Linked DNA regions of Homo sapiens. The protein of the gene in region 7 purifies or fractionates together with the protein of the main gene of each other region. This does not show direct contact. Each region holds a gene or a part of one and is shown on either strand. Other genes may lie near its edges.

The links.
Region 1: the proteins of SLC25A32 (region 7) and PLPBP purify together in Homo sapiens (affinity purification with mass spectrometry; 2 studies listed by BioGRID and IntAct, with this or other methods). This does not show direct contact.
Region 2: the proteins of SLC25A32 (region 7) and OMA1 purify together in Homo sapiens (affinity purification with mass spectrometry; one large-scale study listed by BioGRID and IntAct). This does not show direct contact.
Region 3: the proteins of SLC25A32 (region 7) and CTH purify together in Homo sapiens (affinity purification with mass spectrometry; 3 studies listed by BioGRID and IntAct, with this or other methods). This does not show direct contact.
Region 4: the proteins of SLC25A32 (region 7) and NLRX1 purify together in Homo sapiens (affinity purification with mass spectrometry; one large-scale study listed by BioGRID and IntAct). This does not show direct contact.
Region 5: the proteins of SLC25A32 (region 7) and LAP3 purify together in Homo sapiens (affinity purification with mass spectrometry; one large-scale study listed by BioGRID and IntAct). This does not show direct contact.
Region 6: the proteins of SLC25A32 (region 7) and CBFB purify together in Homo sapiens (affinity purification with mass spectrometry; 2 studies listed by BioGRID and IntAct, with this or other methods). This does not show direct contact.

What each region holds. Positions count from the first base shown.
Region 1 is NC_000008.11:37,772,645-37,776,144, reverse strand, and holds part of PLPBP (pyridoxal phosphate homeostasis protein), read right to left. Parts: intron 3,391-3,500; coding exon 3,256-3,390; intron 837-3,255; coding exon of another isoform or gene 807-836; coding exon 664-806; intron 228-663; coding exon 129-227; intron 1-128. UniProt on the Homo sapiens protein: Pyridoxal 5'-phosphate (PLP)-binding protein, which may be involved in intracellular homeostatic regulation of pyridoxal 5'-phosphate (PLP), the active form of vitamin B6.
Region 2 is NC_000001.11:58,505,227-58,508,726, forward strand, and holds part of OMA1 (metalloendopeptidase OMA1, mitochondrial precursor), read right to left. Parts: intron 984-3,500; coding exon 834-983; intron 1-833. UniProt on the Homo sapiens protein: Metalloprotease that is part of the quality control system in the inner membrane of mitochondria. Activated in response to various mitochondrial stress, leading to the proteolytic cleavage of target proteins, such as OPA1, UQCC3 and DELE1.
Region 3 is NC_000001.11:70,417,768-70,421,267, reverse strand, and holds part of CTH (cystathionine gamma-lyase), read right to left. Parts: intron 3,332-3,500; coding exon 3,236-3,331; intron 1-3,235. UniProt on the Homo sapiens protein: Catalyzes the last step in the trans-sulfuration pathway from L-methionine to L-cysteine in a pyridoxal-5'-phosphate (PLP)-dependent manner, which consists on cleaving the L,L-cystathionine molecule into L-cysteine, ammonia and 2-oxobutanoate.
Region 4 is NC_000011.10:119,175,225-119,178,724, reverse strand, and holds part of NLRX1 (NLR family member X1 isoform 1 precursor), read right to left. Parts: coding exon 3,451-3,500; intron 1-3,450.
Region 5 is NC_000004.12:17,590,698-17,594,197, reverse strand, and holds part of LAP3 (cytosol aminopeptidase), read right to left. Parts: intron 1-3,500. UniProt on the Homo sapiens protein: Cytosolic metallopeptidase that catalyzes the removal of unsubstituted N-terminal hydrophobic amino acids from various peptides.
Region 6 is NC_000016.10:67,084,649-67,088,148, reverse strand, and holds part of CBFB (core-binding factor subunit beta), read right to left. Parts: intron 1-3,500. UniProt on the Homo sapiens protein: Forms the heterodimeric complex core-binding factor (CBF) with RUNX family proteins (RUNX1, RUNX2, and RUNX3).
Region 7 is NC_000008.11:103,398,138-103,401,622, forward strand, and holds the end of SLC25A32 (solute carrier family 25 member 32), read right to left. Parts: coding exon 3,379-3,485; intron 2,410-3,378; coding exon 2,274-2,409; 3' UTR 501-2,273; downstream 1-500. UniProt on the Homo sapiens protein: Facilitates flavin adenine dinucleotide (FAD) translocation across the mitochondrial inner membrane into the mitochondrial matrix where it acts as a redox cofactor to assist flavoenzyme activities in fundamental metabolic processes including fatty acid beta-oxidation, amino acid and choline metabolism as well as mitochondrial electron transportation.

The DNA.
Region 1 (3,500 bases), about 66 Mb from region 7:
ACTGGGTACCTTACTGCCATCCCAAGGCATTTCCAAGGCTTCTACAGCAAAGATCTGCTCTTGTGTCAGCCTCTCAGACCCCCTACCCCCACCCCTCGAGGCAGACAGGGCACTGGCAGGACACTCACCGCATGCTGGAAATCCGCGGACATGCCCATGCTCAGCTCAACCTGGTCAGCAGGGATGTTCAGCTTTTTACACAGCTCCTCCCGGAGGGACAATAACAGCTGACAGAAAGAGATGACACCTATTTTACTCCTGCCTTCTCTAACGATGCCCAAAAGTGTCTGAATCTGAACTTCTCTGACAACGGTTATGTATTCCTTATGATTTCAAGGCCTGCCAAAATTGCCAGACGTTACTGAAAGGGTTTTTTGCAAACTATCCCACTTTCGAGAAAACTATTAGTCACTGGAGAGGAAGAAATCTCATATTCTCTAAAGACTATGTTTTAGCCAAGTTCAAGTTGAGTTGAAAAAGGTTTGTGGGGCTTTGGAAACCTGTTCTTCCCTTTTCCTTCTGAGAAGAGTTCAAAAGAGGGCTAGAACACTCAACAGGCAGTGTCTGGGATGACTCTGCAATCCCCACTGCAGCCAGCCCTGCAATAGCACTCCAGCACCCTGCTTCTTTAGCACACGAGCAATCTCCCCGACCCCCCAGTACCTGGAAGTCTGGATTTGGTCCTTGACTAAGATCATGCCCAAAGCTTCCTATGGTCATCAGCCCCACAAACTCCAGGTTAGGACACTTGGCGTTTATGTGCTCCACGATGGCTATGGTCTCTGAAGGTGGAAGGCCATGTTTACCTTCAAGAAAAGAAACAGAAAACAGGTATACTGCAAGGGTAAATGGCCAGAGGAAGGCTCCATTTTCCTCCCTTCCTTACGACAGAAGAGGTGACCCCCAACAAGAGAACCTCTTGAAAGAGCCTCAAGTCCTAAAGAGTAACTTTATACTTGGGGTTTTCTATGTTGCTCTGCTTCTGGTCAGGTTCTAAATTTCTCAAGAAAAGAACTATCAGTTGGATTCTCTTTCCTCCATCTCAGGATTTCAGCTGAAAACAGCTAGGAGACATGGAAAAGAAAAAATCTTGCTTTTTTGGGATACCAGGAAGATTTGCATTGCCAAAATGCCAGATGAACCTGAGAATTACTTTTCTAAATCAAGAATTTTTATAGTTTTATTAATTTAATGGAGTTGCAAAAAATTTAGTATAAAGTACATGTTAAATATTTTTGGCTATATATTAGCAAAGTTTAACTGAACTTTCTAATTAACAACTGGAAGAGAAATCTGCAGCAAGCAATTATTTGTTATACAGTTATAAGAGCTATTGATATTGTCTTGCCCCCATTTATTAGGCGGAGATACTAGTAACATTTACTTCAGTCTTTAAATAGGGCATATTATAGCTAATTATCAAGAAATGATACAATAAAGACTTGACCTATAGTTGATTTCAGATTTCTATTGATAATTGGGATTTAAACCCAGGTAGTCTGACTCTAGGACGTTATCTAGAAAACAGATGCCTCTACTGTGTTCCTGCATACTAAGATTTGGTGAATACTGGTGCTTTGATGGTTGCAATCAAATGCCTGATCTGTATACATTTATTCTTAACGAATAGCTAACAACATGTGTAGGGTTCTGTGCTAACAATGTTGCCTGGATTATCATATTCAGTCCTAACCACACCCTCTGAAGTAAGCATTCTCATGATACCATTGCCAAAAAAGGAAACTGAAGTACAGAGAGATTAGGTAACTTATCCAAGGTTACAATACTGGAAAGTAGTGTAGCTGAAACCCAAGGTCTGTCTGATTTCAAAGCCCATGCTTCTATTCACACTATGTTACACTGTTAATCCAAGCCCCATAAAGATATTCATTGACTGGTGCTCACCATAATTTTTTATTTATTTATTTTTTTTTGAGATGGAGTCTAACTCTGTCGCCCAGGCTGGAGTGCAGTGGCGCGATCTCGGATCACTGCAATATTCACCTCCTGGGTTCGAGGGATCCTCCTGCCTCAGCATCCCGAGCAGCTGGGGCTATGGGTGCACACCATCATGCCTGGCTAATTTTTGTATGTATGGTAGAGATGAAGTTTCATCATGTTGGCTAGGCTGGTATCGAATTTCTGACCTCAGGTGATCCACCTGCCTCAGCCTTCCCAAGTGCTGGGATTACAGGTGTAAGCCACCGCACCTGGCCCACTCACAGTAATTATCTTCCATTCTCTCCCAATGCAACATCAAGTAATTTTTTTAAGATCTAAGAGTATTTATATAATCTTAGGTCTTAAAAATTTAAAATACTCCTTGTAGGAGTGATGGTGACCTTTGGGGGTTTCCAGATGAAAGACACAATCCCAGGCCGGGTGCAGTGGCTCATGTCTTTAATCTCAGCACTTTGGGAGGCTGAGGTGGGTGGATCACCTGAGGTCAAGAGTTCAAGACCAGCCTGACCAATATGGCGAAACTCCGTCTCTACTAAAAATACAAATATTAGCTGGGCGTGGTAGCGCGTGCCTGTAATCCCAGCTACTCGGGAGGCTGAGGCAGGAGAATCGCTTCAACCCAGGAGGCGGAGGTTGCAGTGAGCTGAGATCGTGCCACTGCACTCCAGCCTGGCGACAGAGTGAGGCTCTGTCTCAAAAAAAAAAAAAAAAAAGGCTGAGTGTGGTGGCTCACGCCTGTAATCCCAGCACTTTGGGAGGCCGAGATGGGTGGATCACTTGAGAGGTCATGAGCTCGAGAGCAGTCTGGCCAATATGGTGAAACCCCATCGCTATTACAAATACAAAAATTAGCCAGGCGTGGTGGTGCACGCCTGTAGTCCCAGCTACTTGGGAGGCTGAGGTGGGAGAATTGCTTCAACCCGGGAGGCGGAGGTTGCAGTGAGCCGAGATCGCACCATTGCACTCCAGCCTGGGCGACATAGCAAGACTCCATCTCAAAAAAAAAACAAAAATACAAAACGAAGTCACAATCCCCTTCTTGAACTCCCCATCCATTCTTCTTCCCCTAAAATTAAGATATAATGAACCATGATGTAGTAAAGAATGATACATAGACTGCTTTGCATGCCATTATGCTACCTAGATCACACATAAAACAGCCAACTTAGAGGCCTGTGATCCTGTGATTTGTTTCTATAACCTTATCCATCAGACACTTGGGCCCACCCATTCTCCCTAAGCTTCAACCATCCTAAAGGAAGAAAAATCTACAATTCAGGTCTGGTTACTTACTCTCTTCTCCGCTGGTGTTAATCTGGACCATAACCTTTAACCTTTCAGGAGAACCTTTTCTCTGCCAGGAACTGTTCACTTTGTCTGCCAACTTCACAGAATCCACTGTTTCCAGCATGAAGAGATTGGGGACAGCTGTAATGAGACAGAGGCAAAGTAGTATTCCTTATTTGCTCTATTGCAGCAAGTAACATGCAACAAATCTCTGACTTGTTAGAGGAAAAAATATGCCAGGAAAAGAAAAA
Region 2 (3,500 bases), on a different chromosome or scaffold from region 7:
CAGGCATGAGAAAGATACTTCTATAATACACCTGGATCTGTTGTGCTATGCCTTAGCACATGGCCCAGTACCAATTCTTAAATTGCTAAAAAATGTTCCGCTTTCATAACAAGCCACCAAATTTAATACAAGTGAGATAGAAGAGAGCGTGTAACGTGGCTCAGAGATGCCTAACATCCATTTTGTCCTGATATGGAAACCATAAAAACATTCTGAATGATGTCAACAAATCAAAAGATTTTCAGAGGATACTGAAAACTACTTGGCAGAAAGCCGCCTCAGCTTGACCCACTTATGAATTCTACAGAAAGAAAAGCCAGAGAGCAAATGCTTCACTCTTATCTTCATAAAGAAATAAATAACCAGAAACAAACATGAAGATTTTTTTTCCTAAAAAAACAAATTCCAGTACCACTACTACAATTAATATCCACTTGACCCAAAACTTCTGTACAACTCATTAACTGGTATTTTTAACAAAAAGCTTAAATCACCAAGGAAAGATTAAATTATCATCAACATGTTTAAAAAACTTAATATGCCTTGAGTTTTAAACTTTCATCAAGTCAGTTAAAATTAAAGTCTCATACTAAAGGAGTTAAACCTTCACTATTAAGAAAAGTCAACTGTACATAGTAATTTATTCTCCAAGACTTGTGGACAAGCAGAATTTTGCTTTTCAGTCAAATTCTGTGACAACTGATAATCCATAATTATAGTAATCAAAATAGTTAATAGGCTAGAACTCTCTTTTACTAAGCAAAAGAAGTGACAGCATTAAAAATAAATGATACAGTAAAAATAATGTCCCGCCTTCTACGGTGTCAGCTCACCTGAGGTATAAGTCTATCCAAGTACTCAACTCGATTGCCATGAGAAGGGTGTGTAGATAACCATTCTGGCATCTTGGGTTGGCCATGCAGGCTATCAACGAACTCCATTTGCTGCCAAAACACTGAACTGGCTCTTATGTCTGCACAAGCCTAAAACCAAAATTAGTAAAACCACACAATGAGCTCAGTTTTGAGGATTTTTTAAAAACTACTACTTTATTTTTTTTTAATTCTATTATAATTATACTTTAAGTTTTAGGGTACATGTGCACAACGTGCAGGTTTGTTACATACGTATACATGTGCCATGTTGGTGTGCTGTACCCATTAACTCGTCATTTAGCATTAGTTATATCTCCTAACAACTTTATGTCACTACATGCTTTAAAGTCATTTTCTATCATCACTTTAATAAAAGTAGAACATGCCCATTGCTTAGAAAAAGACCCACCTCAAACAACATGGTATCACAGTACTGAAATAACAGAATGCCTGCCCTTCCCATATACAACATTCACAATAACCCTGCTAACCAAAGATAGCCCACTATTTTCAGTATGATGGATATTAAGAACATGTATTAAGGGTAAAATCTTTTACACAAATTAAAAATTCTGTTTTCATAAAGTTTTAAAATATAATGTTATTAAACTGTATTAAAGAAACTTTACTTCTATGCCACTAGAACAATCAGAAAAAAACTTCAAATAAACATAAAGAGATGACATGTTTATTATGCACATCAATTTACCCAATTTTCTCAATGTATATGGACAATATATTTAATTCATATACCTTATAAAACACAATACCTTATAAAAGTACAATATAAAAGTACATTAGTACTTTTTAAAAGAATATATGTAGATCTTGTGTATGTACAATTCCATCATACACTCATATACATACTCATACGTATATACTTGTATATGCACAGAACATATCTGAGAAGCTATTTAAGAAGCTGTTAACTACCCTAAGAATGTACCTGAGGTATCTGATAGTGGAGAGGGAGCAACACTTTTATTTCTGAACTATATTAAAATACATTATTTTATAATTAAAATTATTTTTAAATCCTCCATAAGGTGGATTATTAACAAATATTTTATTAATTTGTTCAATTTATTCACATTTCTTAACTTATTCTTTCTATAATAAGTAACTGGAAAACAAGTGGTTATATTTCCCAATGATTTTATTTTTGATTAAAACTAAGAAAAAATATATATACTATACTGACTAAAATGTACTCTCAAAAAGATTTATAATAGTGTAATTGTGAAACCCCAAAAGGCAAATATATTAATAGAACACTGCATGCTAGTCAACAACCATGCTACATCATTTCTTAACAAATACCATTAAAGCATTTCCAAATGTTAGCAAAATAAAAAATTTTAAATTCAAGTAAATCTTATTCAATATTTAAAGAAATATAATTCCTTAAGACCTCTGAGTATTCTAAGTTGAAAAGAATTCAAGGTACTTTATACACTACTGCACAGATATGGATATACATGTTTATATGTATATAAACAGGAATATACAAGATAAATGTATATAACAAACATAAATATTATTCATGTTTATACACATATAAATACATATCTATATATGCAAGATGTGTGTGTGCTTATGTGTAAAATATGTATGTAACATATGTATCTATAAAGAAATAATTATTTGATGCTGAATTAGAAACACCCAGAGGACTATGCCCCTCAATAATAGGTAATCACATTCACAATAAAAATACAGGCTGAGATTAACAAGTATTCTTCTCAAATAATTCATAAAAATATAAAATGACTTGAAAGAATTCTAACACAAACAAAAAACCCCTCTGAAAACTGGAAGATAAACATTTGAATGGACTACAAATTCACGAATTATCTAACATGAAGTTTGTCTGCTACACAAACCAAAGGCATACTTATCTAATTTTTTTAGCCTAAAACTGTTAATCAAAAGACAAAATATTTCCCTATTCAATCTCTAAGTAACACAGCTGAAGGGAATCTTTAAAGCAATATTTGATATGCAGAAATAGAAAAAGAAATTAATTATCCCTACAGACTAGAAAGTATTCCAAGCTAAAAGTATTAAAAGGGGACTTGAGATATCTACTTTAATGTTAAGATAAGAGTGTTGAGTTTGTCTGTACTTCTCAAACCCAGTTCAAAGAGCCACTAAAGTCAGATAATTTTGTTTCCAAAATGAGTATTTTATTTACATTTTTCCAATTTAGGAAAAATAAGTAACAGGTTGACATCAGCAAGATGGAAGAATAGGACGCCCTAAACCCTCCTTCCCCACATGAACACACTGATTCAACGATAATATACGAATTCCCTTTGTGAGAAATCCTGAAACTAGGTGCAATGCTTCTGCACCTGCACAAGTACGAAATGAACAACATCAAACCTGGTAGAAGACTGGAGACACCCTCTTGCCATAATCTGCGAGAGCAATTATGTACCCCCAATACAGCACCATATGATCATAAGAACACCTGCAGCTCCCCACCACTCCTTGGGGAAGGAAAAACTTGGCTTGTGTATCTAACATTCCAACTTTTCTAAGAGCTGCCCTAGGAACTGGCTTCTGTCTTGCCAGCCTTGTAGCACTGATGGAATCTAAAACGCCCTAGATATCTAGGGGCCA
Region 3 (3,500 bases), on a different chromosome or scaffold from region 7:
TCATATCTTTTCAAACAATTTCTACCTAGTTCTCAACTCTAAACTAAATGAATCAATGTCAATGAAAGGTTCAAAATAAATTTCAATATACTTTGTAATGGAAAAGAATTGGTTACTATTCTTTGTACTTTTTTGATCTTTTTGTTATGTAGTTCTGAAAGTTTTAATCGATAAAATGAGACAATATAAATCAAACTACCAGATTTTTACAGTGAAACAAGGTAAATCATTTGACTTAAAATAATTTTTTATAAATACACCTAGATTTGATTTTTACACATAAAAACTTAAAGAAAAAATTGATATTGATACTCAATAACAACAACAACAACAAAAGAATATTCTGTCATTAATGAGAAACTAGACTTTTGATGGTATGTAGACTGACCCTAGGTAATATAAAATTGAAAAATAATGTAAAAAGTTCTTTAAAATCAACAATTTTCAGGATTTTATACCTATGTTTGCCATGAGACTTTTATATTGCATTATAAAAGTATCTAAAGGTTTCAGATTTCTATAATTTCAACTCAACAAGCTAATATAAGAAACTAAGATAAAATACGAAACATTGTGCAAATTTCTGAGGGATAAAATGATTACTAAGAGTAAGTCCCTTCCTTTAAAGCAGGGGTCCCCAACCCAGGCCACAGACAGGTACAGGTTTGTGGCCTGTTAGGAATCCAGCTACACAGCAGGAGGTGAGCAGCGGGTAAGCAATATGACTCCCTGAGCTCAGTCTCCTGTCAAATCAGCGGCAGCATCAGATTCTCACAGGAGGAAACCTACTGTGAATTGCTCATGGGAAGGATCTAGGTTGTGCACTCCTTATGAGAATCTAACTTTCGAGGGATCTAGATTGCATGCTCCTTATGAGAATCTAAATAGTGCCTGATGATCTGAGGTGGAACAGTTTCATCCTGGAACCATCCCCCTGTCCCTGGAAAAATTGTATTCTACAAAACCAGTCCCTGAGGCCGGGCACGAGTGACTCACATCTGTAATCCTAGCACTTTGGGAGGCCGAGGCAGGTGGATCACCTAAGGTCGGGAGTTTGAGACCAGCCTGACCAACAAGGAGAAACCCTGGCTCTACTAAAAACACAAAGTTAGCCAGGCGTGGTGGCACATGCCTGTAATCCCAGCTACTCGGGAGGCTGAGACAGGAGAATCGCTTGAACCCGGGAAGCGGAGGTTGCAGTGAGCCGAGATCGTGCCACTGCACTCCAGCCTGGCAACAGAGCAAGACTCCACCTCAAAAAAAAAAAAAAAAACACGCCGGTCCCTGGTGCCAAAAAGGTTGGGAACTGCTGTTTTAAAGGACTTAGTGATTTAACTTTTTGTTCAGATAGGAAATAGATAAAATGATAATATTCTAGAAATCACATTTTAATTATTTGGAAGCATCTGGAATATATGTATATGTATATTCACAAAATTCCTTGCTTTTGTTTTAAATACAAAAATCAGTGGGCTTAAAGGCAAGGGCAAGCCTGTCTTCTCCACATTCACCACTTTAAATAGCTAACATTTAATTTCTTTGGAATGGAAGTTCTTAAATTTTTTTTATTATACTTTAAGTTTTAGGGTACATGTGCACAACATGCAGGTTTGTTACATATGTATACATGTGCCATGTTGGTGTGCTACACCCATTAACTCATCATTTAGCGTTAGGTATATGCTTATCATCACTGGCCATCAGAGAAATGCAAATCAAAACCACAGTGAGATACCATCTCACACCAGTTAGAATGGCGATCATTAAAAAGTCAGGAAACAACAGGTGCTGGAGAGGTTGTGGAGAAATAGGAACACTTTTACACTGTTGGTGGGACTGTAAACTAGTTCAACCATTGTAGAAGTCAGTGTGGTGATTCCTCAGGGATCTAGAACTAGAAATACCATTTGACCCAGCCATCCCATTACTGGGTATATACCCAAAGGATTATAAATCATGCTGCTATAAAGACACATGCACATGTATGTTTATTGCGGCACTATTCGCAATAGCAAAGACTTGGAACCAACCCAAATGTCCAACAGTGATAGACTGGATTAAGAAAATGTGGCACATATACACATGGAATACTATGCAGCCATAAAAAAGGATGAGTTCATGTCCTTTGTAGGGACAGGGATGAAGCTGGAAACTATCATTCTCAGCAAACTATCACAAGGACAAAAAACCAAACACCACATGTTCTTACTCATAGGTGGGAATTGAACAATGAGAACACATGGACACAGGAAGGGGAACATCACACACCAGGGACTGTTGTGGGGTGGGGGGAGGGGGGAGGGATAGCATTAGGAGATATACCTAATGCTAAATGAAGAGTTAATGGGAAGTTCTTAAATTTAGAGCCATAGATGGGCTTCAGCGGTTCAATCCATGAGACCCCTAAAATTAAAATGCTAATCACTCAGTGTAGTCTTAAGAACATTTTTTGGGAAAAGAGGCCCATATCTCTCAACAAATTTTTGAAAGTTTCCCTGGTGCCAAACAAAAAATAAAAAGCAAAAGGGGATGTGTGGGGTTGAACTCTTGAGAGTAACCTGAGTTGTATTTCATCTTTATTACAGGTAAAAATTAAGTTACAGGAGAACACTGTCTCTCTAAACCTTATCTTCTCTAGAGCAGAATATGTCTGCAAGTTGATCAAGTGCTACGTATTCATTCTAGCACCTTAAATACTATTCTTAGTAAATAATCTCTGGCCAGGTGAGGCGGCTCGCGCCCGTAATTCCAAAACTTTGGGAGGCTGGAGAGGGAGGATCACTTGAGCTCAGGAGTTCCAGACCAGCCTGACCAACACAACGAAACCCCGTCTCTACAAAAAATACAAAAATTAGTCAGGTGTGGTGGCATGCGCCTGGGGTCCCAGCTATTCAGGAGGCTAGGGCATGAGAACCATTTGAACCCAGGAGGCGGAGACTGCAGTGAGCTGAGATCGTACCACTCCACTCCAACCCGGGTGACAGAGTGAGATCCTATCTAAAAATAAACAAATAAATAAATAAATAATCTCTCTTATAAGCAGTTCCAGAACATGGACCCTAAGTGTTTATGCTCCTCTTTTCCCAAGTCTGAGAGAGCATAGAGGTACCTGTCACACCTGTAAACTATAATAAATAATCAAAAATACTGGCAACATTGTTAATATTAATTCAGGGCTCACTTTATTATCTGTAAAATACAAGTTTACAGAATATAAATGAGAGGGGTCACCTACCTCCATACACATCATCCATACAAATAATTTGGTCTCCTGCTTTTAAAAGATGGGTAATAGTTACAGTGGCTGCTAAACCTGAAGCAAAGGCCAAACCTAAAATAAAAATCAAGTTAGAGTAAGCTGAAAAGTCAGGCCTATAGGTTACAACACACCTCCAAGTATTTACCTGACTTACTTTAATGCAGATAGGAAGCCATCACTGCTGAGTTGCTAGAGGCCCCTGATTAATACCATTACAAAATCTCCTTTTCTATTTCAAGAA
Region 4 (3,500 bases), on a different chromosome or scaffold from region 7:
TCTCAAGAGAAAAAAAAAAAAAAAAAGCCTCCAGGGTGCTGCCCTTTCCTGGGGCATTTCCCCTCCCCCAACTTCTTCCTTTGGCTAATGCTACAAGGGTCAGACGACATGCCCTTCCACAAAGAGGCTCTCCTGACCCCGCAGACCAGTTCCCCCACTATACACTTTCATGGCATCTGGGGCTCCTTCTTCCCAGGCATTTGCTGTAATTTTTCCTTATATGGTTACATTGATATTTTTGTGCTCAAACTGTGCAGGAAGTAGCAGTTTCCTTCTGGGAGAGGAGCTCAGACTAGATCAGAAAGGGCTGAAACCTGTAGTTTTGTTAACTGACATTTCCTCAGATTCTAACACATTGCCTGGCACACAGCAGGCACTCAAATATCTGACAAAGAAATAAATGTTGGGGGTTTGTGATATCTTCCCCCATTCCTGCAATGGTTCTGAAAGGGAAGAAGGGTCATTCCTCTGGCAACAAACCATGACGTTGTTTTGTGGCACGTCCTTTAACATCTGGGTTTTTTTTACTTTTTAATGTTTTAATTTTTATTTGTTTAGAGACAGAGTCTTGCTGTGTCACCTAGGCTGGAGTGCAGTGGTGTGATCATAGCTCACTGTAGCCTTTAACTCTTAGGCTCAAGCGATCCTCCTGCCTTGGCCTCCTGACAGCTGTGACTACAAGTGTGCCCCACTGCACCTGGCTTGTTTTCATGTTTATATGTGAGGTTACTCTCATAGAGGTGATAGTGCCCCTTCTCCAACACCAACCTGTGACAGAATATGTCACCCTGTGAAGCTGAATCCACAGGATGGTGAATAAACAGATGGGCTCAGTGCTCTGCCAGGGCAACCCTCCCTCCAAGAGGGCTTGGGGGTGCAGGGCTGACAATTCTGCTGGGTTTTCAATAACTGGGGGCTTTCTGAATCCCCTCGGGAGACTGCAGCCTCTCGTTGCAACTCAGGTCCGGCAGGCACATCCTCAAGGCGGGGTGGCCTCAGCAGCAGCTGTGACCTCCTGTCGGAGGTGATGTGTGAGAAGGGGTGGGCTGCCCGAGCCTGTTTCTTTGTTTCTTTCTTTTTTCTTTTTTTTTTTTTGTGAGACAGAGTCTCGCTCTGTCACCCAGGCTGGAGTACAGTGGCGCGATCTCAGCTCACTGCAACCTCCACTTCCTGGGCTCAAGAGATTCTCCTGCCTCAGCCTCCCGAGTAGCTGGGATTACAGACACGTGCCACCACACCCGGCTAATTTTTGTATTTTTAGTAGAGATGGGGTTTCACCATGTTGGCCAGGCTGGTCTGGAACTAAGTCTGTTTCTATGTGTGACAAACAATTAAACAGCATAGGCCGGGCGTGGTGGCTCACTCCTGTAATCCCAGCACTGTGGGAGGCTGAGGTGGGTGGATCACCTGAGGTCAGGAGTTCAAGACCAGTCTGGCCAACATGGAGAAACCCTGTCTCTACTAAAAATACAAAAATAAGCCGGGCATGGTGGCAGGTGCCTGTAGTCCCAGCTACTTGGGAGGCTGAGCTGGGAGAATCACTTAAATCCGGGAGGTGGAGGTTGCAGTGAGCAGAGACGGTGCCACTGCACTCCAGCCTGGGCGACAGAGCGAGACTCCATCTCAAAAAAACAAACAAACAAAAAACAATTAAATAGCACTTACCATGTCCTAGACCCTGAGGATGAGTTCATTTCATCTTCATATTAGGCCAGTGATATAAGTTCTAGTATTATCTCCATTTCACAGATAAGGAATCTGAGGCACAGAACTAAGTAACCTGTCCAAAGTCTCACAGCTAATAAGTAGCAGAGCCTGGATTTGAACTCAAATAGCTGAGTTACCAAATCCCTGTTCTTAGCCCTTATGCTTTGGTGCCTATAAAAATAAAAAGTTGGCTGGGCACAGTGGTTCACACCTGTAGCCCAGCACTTTGGGAGGCCAAAGTGAGAGGATCACTAGTGAGACCCCATCTCTACAAAATTAAAAATTTTTTATTTTTTAATTTAATTTAATTTTGTTATTATTATTTTTTTATTTTTGAGAGGGAGTCTCTGTTGCTCAGGCTGGAGTGCAGTGGCGCAATCTTGGCTCACTGCAACCTCTGCCTCCCAGGCTCAAGCAATTCTCCCGTCTCAGCCTCCCAAGTAGCTGGGATTACAGGCACCCGGCACCACACTTGGTTAACCATGTTGGCCAGGTTGGTCTCAAACTCCTGACCTCAGGTGATCTACCTGCCTCGCCTCTCAAAGTGCTGGGATTACAGGCGTGAGCCACTGCACCCGGCTACAAAATTAAAATTTTAAAAATTAGCTGGGGATGGTGGCACATGCCTGAGGTCCCAGCTACTCAGTGAAGTTGAGGTGGGAGGATTGCTTGAGCCCAGAAGGTCGAAGCTGCAGTGAGCTATGATTGCACCACTGCACTCTAGGCCTGGGCAACAGAGTAAGACTCTGTCTCAAAAAATAAAAATAAAAATACATTTAAATTTTTAAAAAGTGTTGAAATTCTGCCAGCACTAACCAGCACTCTGCCTCCTCAAAATGCGTTGCTGAAACATTCCTAGAGAAAACAAAGGTTACCTAGCAAGGTCCCACAGCTCGACAGACATATCCGTAATGCACCAGTATAGTTTGGCAGAAAGAGCACAGGATTCAGAATCACAAAGCCCTGGGCTTTTAAACTTACTATTTGAGTGATCTTGGACAAGTTACTTTACCTCTCTGAGCCTCAGTTTATTCATCTATAAAAGGGATCATAATAGTATTTCCTTTCCAGGAGTAATGTGAAAAACAAAAGGATGAACACTGATAACGCGCCTGGCACACATCACACAGAGTGGCTCCTTCCAGCCCTCAAAGACCTCGCTCAGCTGTGCCACTCACAGCACAGTCCTCAGGTCTGTAATTTGGTTTCTGGAGTGGACCTGCCCTCATGATGACTCCCCTAAGCCAATTACCAATGCCATTTATCTTCCTAGTATAAATGAATAAAATGGCATCTGCTTTATAAACCCGTCTCTGGTGATTTAGTTAGGATGAGTCATCACTCTCAGAGCCTAATCACCTCTGGAGGAGCAGACACAATCGAGTTTCTGGACCTGCAAAGCAGAGGATAGGCCTGCCTCCTAGGAGGAAAGACACAAAAAGGAAACCATTTTTAGGAATCCATGTAGCATTATTATTAAAGTCCCCACGTCCCCAGGTTCCCTTCCCCAGCCACCAAGCCTTCCCCAGCCTTGTGGCTTCTCTCTCTGCAATCCCACTAAAAGCCAAAATGCTCAGAGCTGAAACCAGATCCAGGGAGAAGATTCATACCTTTGCAGGAAGCAGCAGTTTCCTGCTGGGAGAGGAGCAAGGGGTGAACAGGGAACCATGTGGGGGCGTGGGCGGCTTGGGGTGCTGGGGAGGGAAGGAGCAGGTTGGGGGGTTACCTTGATCGGGATGTTACCTTGATCAGGTTGAAGAGCAGAGGCAGAGCCCGCAGAGGCAGCAGCTTGG
Region 5 (3,500 bases), on a different chromosome or scaffold from region 7:
GACTATGGTTCTAAGGTAGCCACCAGTTAAAGATCAGCAATCAGCTTTGGCTCACTTTTTCAATCTCTCTCAAATCCACCCACTTATTTTCTACTCAGCCGCCCTCATTGATGCTACTACCCTCTGTCATTTGGATGTTTGTCAGGTCTCCTTAACGGGTCTTTCTGTATCAGTCTCACCACTGTCATTTCATTAACCATAAAAACAGCACATTTTTACACACACACAAAATCTATCTCAATCAAAATCTCAGTAGGTTTTGTTGTGTGAAAAAACAAGCAGATTCACCGAGTGTGGTGGCTCACGCCTGTAATCCCAGCACTTAGGGAGGCTGAGGCAGGCAAATCACTTGAGCCCAGGAGTTCGAGACCAGCTTGGGCAACACGGCAAAACCCCATCTCTATAAAAAATACAAAAATTAGCTGGGCATAGTGGTTCGCATCTGTAGTCCCAGCTACTCGGGAGGTTGAGGTGAGAGGATCACCTGAGCCCAGGGAGGTCGAGGCTGCAGTGGGCCAAGATTGCACCACTGCACTCCAGCCTGGGCAACAGAGTGAGACACTGTCTCAAAAAAAAAAAAAAAAAAAACCCAAGCAGATTCTAAAATGTATATGAAGATGCAAAGGATGTAGCCAAAGTCATTCTGAAAAAGAAGAGCAAAGCTGGAGGACTCATGTGACTAGATTTCAAGCCTACTCAAAGCTGCAGTAATCAAGATATTTGGTCTTCAGGCACTGGTGAAAGGATACAGAGCCCAGAGGCAGACCTACAATTATATGGACAACTGATTTCCACCCGAGGTGCCAAGGTAGTCTAGTGGGGAAAGGACAGTCTTTTCAACAAACAGTGCAGAAGTAAATGAACAGCCACATAGGAAAAAAAAAAGACAAAAACAAACCAGGTCTTTTCACACCATACACAAAGATTCAAAGTGAAGCATAGCGTCAAAATCTAAAACTCACTTAAAATGAAATATATTTTTAAAAAACCTTACAATTCTGTAAAGCCAACACTCCTATAAAAAGGGGCAAAAGATTTGAATACCTTACTACAGAAGATATACCAATGTCCAATAAGCACATTAAAAAATGCCCAGCTTTGGCTGGGTGTGATGGCTCATGCCTGTATCCCAGCACTCTGGGAGGCTGGGGCAGGCAGATCACTTGAGATCAGGAGTTTGAGACCAGCCTGGCCAACATGGTGAAAACCCGTCTCTACTAAAGATGCAAAAATTAGCCAGGCATGGTGGTGTGTGCCTATAGTCCCGGCTACTCGGGAGGCTGAGGCAGGAGAATTGCTTGAACCCAGAAGGCGGAGGTGCAGTGAGCCGAGGTGCACTCCAGCCTGGGTGACAGAGCGAGACTCCGTCTCAAAAAATAAAAAATGACCGACTTCATTAGTCACTAGAGAAATGCAAATTAAACCACAAAGAGAGATCACTGTATACTCACTGGTACAGCTAGAATTATAAAGACTGACAATATCAAATACTGAGGAAGGTGTAGAACAATTAGAATCTTTGTACATTGATGGTAGAAGTGAAAATGTACCCGCTTTGGAAAAGTTTGGTAGTTTCTTAAAAGTTAAACACTCAGTTATTATACAACACAGTGGCTGTTTTCCTAGGTATTTACGCAAGAGTAAGGAAAACACGTCCACACAAAGGCTTACAGATGCTCTTAACTTTATTCCTAATAGCCTAAAACTGGAAACAACACAAATTTCCACCAATAGATGAATGGGTAAACAAAATTTGGCATTTCCATACAATTGAACACTACTCAACAATAGAAAAGAAGAATGGCTGACATGACCAACAACATAGATAAACCCCAGATACTACGCTGAAAGAAGCCAGACATCAAAGACTGCATTTATATGACTTTCCGGAATAGGCAAAACTAATCTGCAGTAATAGGAAGATGATCGGCTGTCTGGAGCAAGGGCAGGTGGGGAATGACTACAAAAAGGCAGAAGGGAACTTCTGGGGGATGATAAAAATGTTGTATTTTCCTGACAGTGGTGAACGGTGCATAGGTGTATACATTTGTTCTTTGGTTTTTAAAATCAATCTATCTACCTATCTAATCTATCTATTTATTTATTTAAAGATGGTGTTTTACTATGTTGCACAGGCTGCTCTTGAACTCCTGGGCTCATGTAATCCTCCTACCTCAGCTTCCCAAGTAGCTGAGATTACAGGTGTATGCCACTGCACCCCCCCAAGGTGCACACATTTGTTAAAACTCATTGAGCTGGCCACTTAGAGGGTGAATTTCACTGTATGTATAAATCTCACGTCATTCTGTTTGGTGGAAACCCTTCAGTTACGGCCAACTGTTCTCAGAGCAGAGTGCAAAAATCTAAGCAGGCCCGCAGCGACCAAGCTTCTGTGTACCTCTCTAGCCGTATCTTGCCCCTTCTCTCCATCACGCTCTTGTGTGCAGGCACACTGGTACTCTTGCCATACCAGGAATTTACCCTGCTCCTTCCCACCTTACAGCCTTCACCATGTTTCCCTGCACTAGAATGCCTGTCCCTAGTCTCTCCTGAGCTAATTCCTCCTGATTCTTCACATCTTCAGCTAAAACTGACACTCCTGCAAGGAAACCTTCTCTAAACCCAAAGAAGGCTTTGGGTTTAGGCCTCTTTGTTTTTATTCTCAGCAAAAATTACAAATGTGGACTTAAATTAACAATAAACTTCACCCTTAGCATAAAAATATTTGTGTCACAATTGGCAAGACATTTAGTCTAGGGCCAGGTGTGGTGGCTCACACCGGTAATCCCAGCACTTTGGGAGGCCAAGGTGGGGGGATCACGAGATCAGGAGTTTGAGACGAGCCTGGCCAACATGGTGAAACCCCATCCCTACCAAAAATAGAAAAAAATTAGCCAGGCGTGGTGGCAGACACCTGTAATCCCAGCTACTCGGGACTAAAAATACAAAAAAAATTAGCCAGGAGTGGTAGCAGGCACCTGTAATCCCAGCTACTCGGGAGGCTCAGGCAGGAGAATCACTTGAACCAAGGAGGCAGAGGTTGCAATGAGCCAAGACTGCGCCAATGCACTCCAGCCTGGGCAACAGAGCAAGATTCCGTCTCAAAAAACAAAACAAAACAAAAGTTTAGGCTGGGTGTGGTGGCTCACACCTGTAATCCTAGCACTTTGGGAGGCCAAGGCAGGCAGATTGCTTGAGCTCAGAAGTTCAAAACCAGCCTGGGCAACATAGCAAGACCACGTCTCTACTAAAAAAAAAAAAAAAAAAAAAAAAAGTTTAACTTTCTAAATTGTGTTTGCTGTATTGTTTTTATAATACACACTTTAGTGGCCAGGCGCAGTGGCTCACGCCTGTAATCCCAGCAGTTCAGGAGACCGAGGCGGGCAGATGACGAGGTCAGGAGATCGAGACCACCTGGCTAACAAGCTGAAACCCCATCTCTACTAAAACTACAAAAAATTAGCCGGGCATGGTGGCGGGGGCCTGTAGTCCCAGCTACT
Region 6 (3,500 bases), on a different chromosome or scaffold from region 7:
TTCCAGCCCAATTTTCCAGATGACAGTTCTCTACAAGAACTGATGTTTTAAATTACTGCCATAAGGGACTACAGGATCTTAAATCATTGATGAAAATATAACTCTTTTCTCTATGCTCTAGGTCATAATGTAGGGAAAGTGCCTTGATACACTTCAGAGAACTAAAAGGATGTTCTTGTTAGCCAAATAATTCAATTAACTGGAACCAGCATTATGGTGGAGCTTTTAGTGCTAAAAAGAAGTACTTCAGAGCTATTATTTACTGTAGGCATACACATACCAAGCATCATACTAAGTGCTTTACAAGCATTTTCCCATTTAATACTCAAATTCTGTGAGAAAATTAGGGCTCTTGAGGCAAGTGACGGAGCAGGAATCTCAACTAGGCCTGACTACAAAGCCCATGCTCTCAATCACTGACAAAAAAACAAGTAGAAACAATCTATCTGAGCAACAAATTATGTGACACTTCTATCAACAGACTATATTTCTGTTCATATATACATATAAACTCACATACCAAAATATTCTTCCAACATTTTAAATTAGAAAAATCAAATTAACAATGTATTTATTTCTTTTTGTGGGGTCAGGGAGACAGGGTCTTGCTCTGTTGCCCAGGCTGGAGTGCAGTGTCACAATCATAGTTCACTACAGCCTTGACCTCCTGGGCTCAAGCGATCCTCCCACCTAGCCTCCCAAGTAGCTGGGAACACAGGCACATGCTACCATGCCTAGCTAGTTTTTAAATTTTTTGTAGAGACAAAGTCTTGCTGTGTTGCCCAGGCTGGTCTTGAACTCCTGGGCTCAAGCAATCCTCCCTCAGCCTCCCAAGGTGCTGAGATTAAAGGTGTGAGCCACCACAATTTAGAATAGAAAATTCTTAGTCAATTAATCTAGAGTTTTATGTAAAGCAAAATACATACAAAAGCTTTCAACAGTTGTTCCATTAATTGTCAAATAGTTAATCTCCAAATATAATGTAGCTGAAGAGCACTTTTTAGAAAATGATTCCTATATTCATTTAAAGCCATGTTAGCTTGCTCCAGAAATACTGACCAATCACACTCTCTTGACTTGGCAGGCTCTCTTACTCCTCCTTACTCCTCCATGCCTTTGCATACACTGTTTGTCCTGCCCAGAATGCTTTCTCCAACTTGAACAGCTGGCAAAACACACTCTTCCTTCAAATCCCTCTAAGTATACTACCCTGTGAATTTCCCAAGCAGAGGCAGACTTAAGCTTCCTCTACACTGCTGCTGTCCCTTTTGAACCTCCATTATGTATGGTGGTTGCTAAAGTACACTGCAATGATCTGTTTATCCATCATTTTCCCACAAGACTGACAGCTGATCAAAGACAGAAACAATGCATTTTCATCTATATATTTCTCAGTCCCTAATGCAGAATACAGACCAACACACTTGGGGTTTATTACTTTACTTAACTAGTTAATATAAACCAACACATTATAAATATTTAGAATCTTTCCAGAGACCATTAATATGTATTATCTACATGAACTATCATAGCAGGCTCTCCTATAATTCTAGTTTTCAGACAGGCAGGATAGGGGCTGTTTTTTGAAGATATCCAATGAACAACTAAGCAGTGTACAAAGGATTGTGGTAGGTAATGTGGAAGACACAAAAATCAGGGGCTCCATCTCATGGGATTGCCATAAAGTGGAGGGCACAAATGTTTATAATTGTTTCAACATGTTGTTCAATAAGAACACTAGTAGAAATAAAAAGTGCTACAGAATGGAAGGGCTTTATGATTATGACTAAGAAGACTGAGGAAAGGCCTGACATTTAATGACAACATTCAGGTTGGGCCTTGACGGACAGAAAAGAACATTCTACATCAGGGAACAAAGAGCATGAGCAAAAAGGTTCAGAAATGTAACAAATGTACATTATACATTTTAAAGCTTCTAAATTTTACAGATACCGAAAGAAAGGGCATGGTGTGGAAGTCTTGTATTCACATATATGAAAATCACAAGAATTACAACAGCATCAAAGAAAACAAGTATCACATATATCCCTCCATTTTCTTCTCTTAGCTAACAAGTATTCTTGGGGACATCCTCAGCTGCTATCAGCCCATTAGATTAATTAACTCACTGACAAAGAGATCTAGCAATCACTAAAAGATACTAAATTTTAAGCCGGGCACAGTGGCTCAAGCCTGTAATCCCAGCTCTTTGGGAGGCCAAGGCGGGCAGATCACGAGGTCAGGAGATCGAGACCATCCTGGCTAACACGGTGAAACCCCGTCTCTACTAAAAAATACAAAAAATTAGCCGGGCATGGTGGCGGGCGCCTGTGGTCCCAGCTACTCGGGAGGCTGAGGCAGAAGAATGGCTTGAACCAGGGAGGCGGAGCTTGCAGTGAGCTGAGAATGCGCCACTGCACTCCAGCCTGGGCGACAGAGCGAGACTCCGTCTCAAAAAAAAAAAAAAAAAAAAAAGATACTAAATTTTAGGCTGGGTGCAGTGGTTCACATCTGTAATCCCAGCACTTTGGGAGGTCAAGGAGGGAGAACTGCTTGAGCCCACGAGGTTGAGGCTACAGTGAATCATGTTCACACCACTGCACTTCTGCCTGGGCAACAGAGTGAGACCCCATCTCCCCCCACCCCCACCCAAAAAAAAGATATTAAATTTTATTTCAAGTCTGGGCACGGTGGCTCACTCCTGTAATCCCAGCACTTTGGGAGGCTGAGGCAGGTAGATCACCCGAGGTCAGGTGTTTGAGACCAGCCTGACCAACATGGTGAAACCTCGTGTCTACTAAAAATACAAAAATTTGCCGGGCGTGCTGGCAGGAACCTGTAATCCCAGCTACTCAGAAGACTGAGGCAGGAGAATCGCTTGAACCCGGGAGGCAGAGGTTGCGGTGAGCCGACATTGTGCCACTGCACTCCAGCCTGGGCGACAGAATGAGACTCCATCACACACACACACAGAGACACACACAGAGACACACACACACACACACAATTTATTTCATACACTAACCACCAAATAGGCTTGATTTTTAAATGTATTCTAAGTAAATATATTTTAACACAACTAGAAATTTTATGTAATACTTTAAATAATATTAACAATAATAATAGCACCTGACACCTAGTCAGTGGCACATACGCTAAAAGTGGTTTCACATGTATTTACTCATTTAATCCTCACAATGACCATATGAGACAGGCAGGATTATTACTCCTATTTTGTAGATGAGGAAACTCAGTCATAGAAAAGTGAAGTAAGCTGTCCAAGCTGACAAAGTAAATGACAGAGCCAGATTCAGACTTCTGTCTGGCTGTAGAGTCTGGGCTCTTAGCCACTGTCTGCACCCATGCACGCACACACACACACACGTATGCACACACACCTTAATTTAAACAATAGTGTACATATAATTTTGTGCTTGGAAAAAAACCACAAATTTTCTTCATTATGTAACATTGACTTAAAAACTTAAAAAAAGTGGTGA
Region 7 (3,485 bases):
TCACCCATCCCCTCTAGCCAACTTAATTCCTCCCTCAGGCCCTTTTTACTTCCTGTCCTCTCTGCCTAGAATGTGTTTCCTCTCACTGTGGCTCGCTTCCTCACTTCTTTCAAAATGTTCCAAATACTATCTCAGAGACCTTTCCTGACCCCAACCATACTACCTAAGATAGCAACACTATTCCCCCGTTCTGCTGTAGTTTTATTTATAGCATTAAATACCTGAAATTACATTATGCATATATTTCCTTTTCTGTCACTTACACCAAGATGAAAATTCCCTGAGGGCAGGAATATTGTCTGGCTTATTTATTGCTATATCCTCAGTGCTTGGTGACGTACCTGCCAAAGAGCAGGAGTTGAGTGACTATTTGTTGTTGAATGACTGAAATTGAGTTCTCTTCTGTCAGAACTCTTACCAGGCTTTGTGAGATATTCCTTACGAGTTCTTAATCTATAGCTGTAATTATTTAATGCATATTTATCTATCACACAAGCTTGTATGCTCTCAGAGGACAAGAATTATGTTTTATTCATTTGGGAGTACATAGGCGGTATTTAAACAATGGTGCTATCTTAAACACCAAATATCAACTGCAGTTCACTTTTTCCGTGTGGGGACTAATATCAAGATTTCATATGAATTATAGTATAATCCAGAAGTATGAAAAAATACATCATATTTAACTTATAAAGCATTCATCTGCATGTTATAAGATATTACAGTAAATACAATTAGGTACTTACCATTTTATCTTTACTTTAAAAACAATGCCTTTTCCAAAATATAAAAAAAAGACCTATTTTTAAAGAACTATTTAAAGATGGCTTTGAAAACAACACTTTTATTTACAACAAATAGATGGTAGTGCAACAGCACTCGTGGATGTTTACGATAAATAAAAATACTAGTATTCTGGCATCCTTTGGGTACAGGCCCTTTTATATTTATAGATGTCTACAATGACTCATAAAAGTAAAATCAATAAAGGCTATTAATTTGTATTTCAACCTGAATTTGAGAAACCAATGAAGATTAATCATTTATTTGGGATCTAGATCCATATATCTGAAAACTGAAGTATAAAGTTTCTCATTTCCATTTACCTTGTCAACAAACATATCCCAAACATTTCAGCATCTGTAAAAGGTGATCTATTTAGCATCTGTAATAAGTGATTTATAGTTATATATGCTAAATAAAGGTTGACACAGCTGGATCCTAGAAGCTCAGATTTTATAAATTTAAAATAGATTAAGTATTTATGCCAAAAAACAAGAACTGGATCTAGGATTTTATTTTAAATTATGGAAGTCTCTGGGGAAAAAAAATAGCAATGGAATGACAATAGATGTCAGATATTTCTCTGAGAAGTATATAGTTTCTCAATTTTCGCTAGGTAGTGCATCCCAACTGAATTAAAACTAAAGCATATTTACAGTGCATTTTTTCTCACTAAAATTTCCCAATTCTAAAATGGTCTGGCCAGGCGCAGTGGCTCACGCCTGTAATCCCAGCACTTTGGGAGGCCAAGGCAGGCGGATCACAAGGTCAGGAGATTGAGACCATCCTGGCTAACATGGTGAAACCCCATTTCTACTCAAAATATAAAAAAAAGTTAGCCAGGCGTGGTGGCAGGTGCCTGTAGTCCCAGCTACTCAGGAGGCTGAGGCAGGAGAATGGCGTGAACCCGGGAGGTGGAGGTTGCAGTGAGCTGAGATCACGCCACTGCACTCCAGCCTGGGCGACAAAGCAAGACTCCATCTCAAAAAATAAATAAATAAAAAAATAAAATAAAATGGTCTGGATTTGGTCAACACCTTATTCAGTAAATCCTTAATTTACCTTGAGACATACAAAGACATTCTTTTAAAGAGCTATTTTCTTGGTATTGCACAAAGGTTAATTTTAAAGCAATCCAGGCAAGTAAGCTCACAAAAAGAAGTACATTCATCTAATCCATTTAGCAAATGTTGCAAATCAGCTTCCACCAATAAAACGTAGAAATCTGTGAAACTCTATCCTTCGTGTCAGTTTTAACATTGTGTTGATGGCAGCCATTTCAGGCAGAGGTAGCCAAGTTCCATATATATGGGGAAGGCAAAAAGCAAGAAAAACATTGCAGGAGACTTAGCAGTTCTCTGGCTTCTAATGACTATAGAGCAATTTCGAATATGAGCCATGTTTCTATGCAGAATTCTTCTTTTATGCCTTAAACACAAAAGAGCTTGTTGCTGCCTTGGGCAGATATACTGGAATTGTCCTCTTTGAGCTTACTTTCTCTTTTCTCTAAGGTCAAGTAAAAAATGTGAGACGTTTTCATATACCACAAAGGTAATACAGCAGGCTGGAGTCACTCTAATCAAATTAGGAGCAATTCCCTTGTAAAATCCACCGACGCCTTCTTTCCTTTAGAGGGAAAAATAGATAATGCTTAATTTTGTATAGAGCTAGCTTGAAAACACGGAAGTTCTAACTGACACAAGGCATGGAGCAAGCAGCAGTCAAACCTTACTCTGATTTAAGTTCATGTTTTCAATGTCCTAAAGTAATGTAGTTTATAAGCCATCTGTAGGGATTTACATTCCTTTTATGGATGGACTGAGTAAGAGAGGGTAGGGACACCTCAAAACTGAACTAAAAAGTGCTTTCAATTAGCTATCTTTCAAATGCTTTTAAATGTATGTACAAGCAGGAGTTTTAATTGACCTAATGTAGGCATTAAAAAACCTCATAGCTTGGATAAATGCTAGCCAACATTAAATACAGCACATACAAATATAAAACTTTATTTCCTTAATGCCAATAATATGGAATACGGCCTAGAAATTTGTCACTTAGGTGCTCATTAAATATTTCTTGAATTGAATTAAATTTAAACATCCTAAATGTTCTCCTCTGTTCCTTTAGAATTAAAGGGAAATATGGTGATGTCTGCCTATAATAATTTAACTAGTCTCATACTGAAGAACAAACATCTCTTTCATATATGGAAACAAGTATTTGCAAAAGTTATGGTGCCAGTAGCAGGTGTGGAGCCTTCTTGAATGTATTAAGCTAGTCTTATGACTTCTTATATTCAATACCATTCAGATATTTTATAACACCTAAATTTTATTTTCCAAAACATTTTCACACATTTAATTTGATTCTTATAACAACCTATTAGTTAGAAAGTCTTACTTTACAAATGAAGAAATTAAGTCTCAGAGAGATTAAGGCCATGGTCACATACGTAATAACTGGGAAAGCAGGGACCACCAATCATGTTTTCACCACAGCAAACTGGCCTTTGCTATAAAACTAGTATCAACAGGATGGTCTAAGATATGCAAGGTACCTTGTCAAAGCAATTTTTGATATAGCACGTGCTCTCACCTCCATGTCTTTGTGATTACATCTATTACACCACTGTAAAACATGTGTTGATCCTGAAGACGAGCTCTTACGACTTGATATGGGTATGTTGCTGCGACAGCAAATAT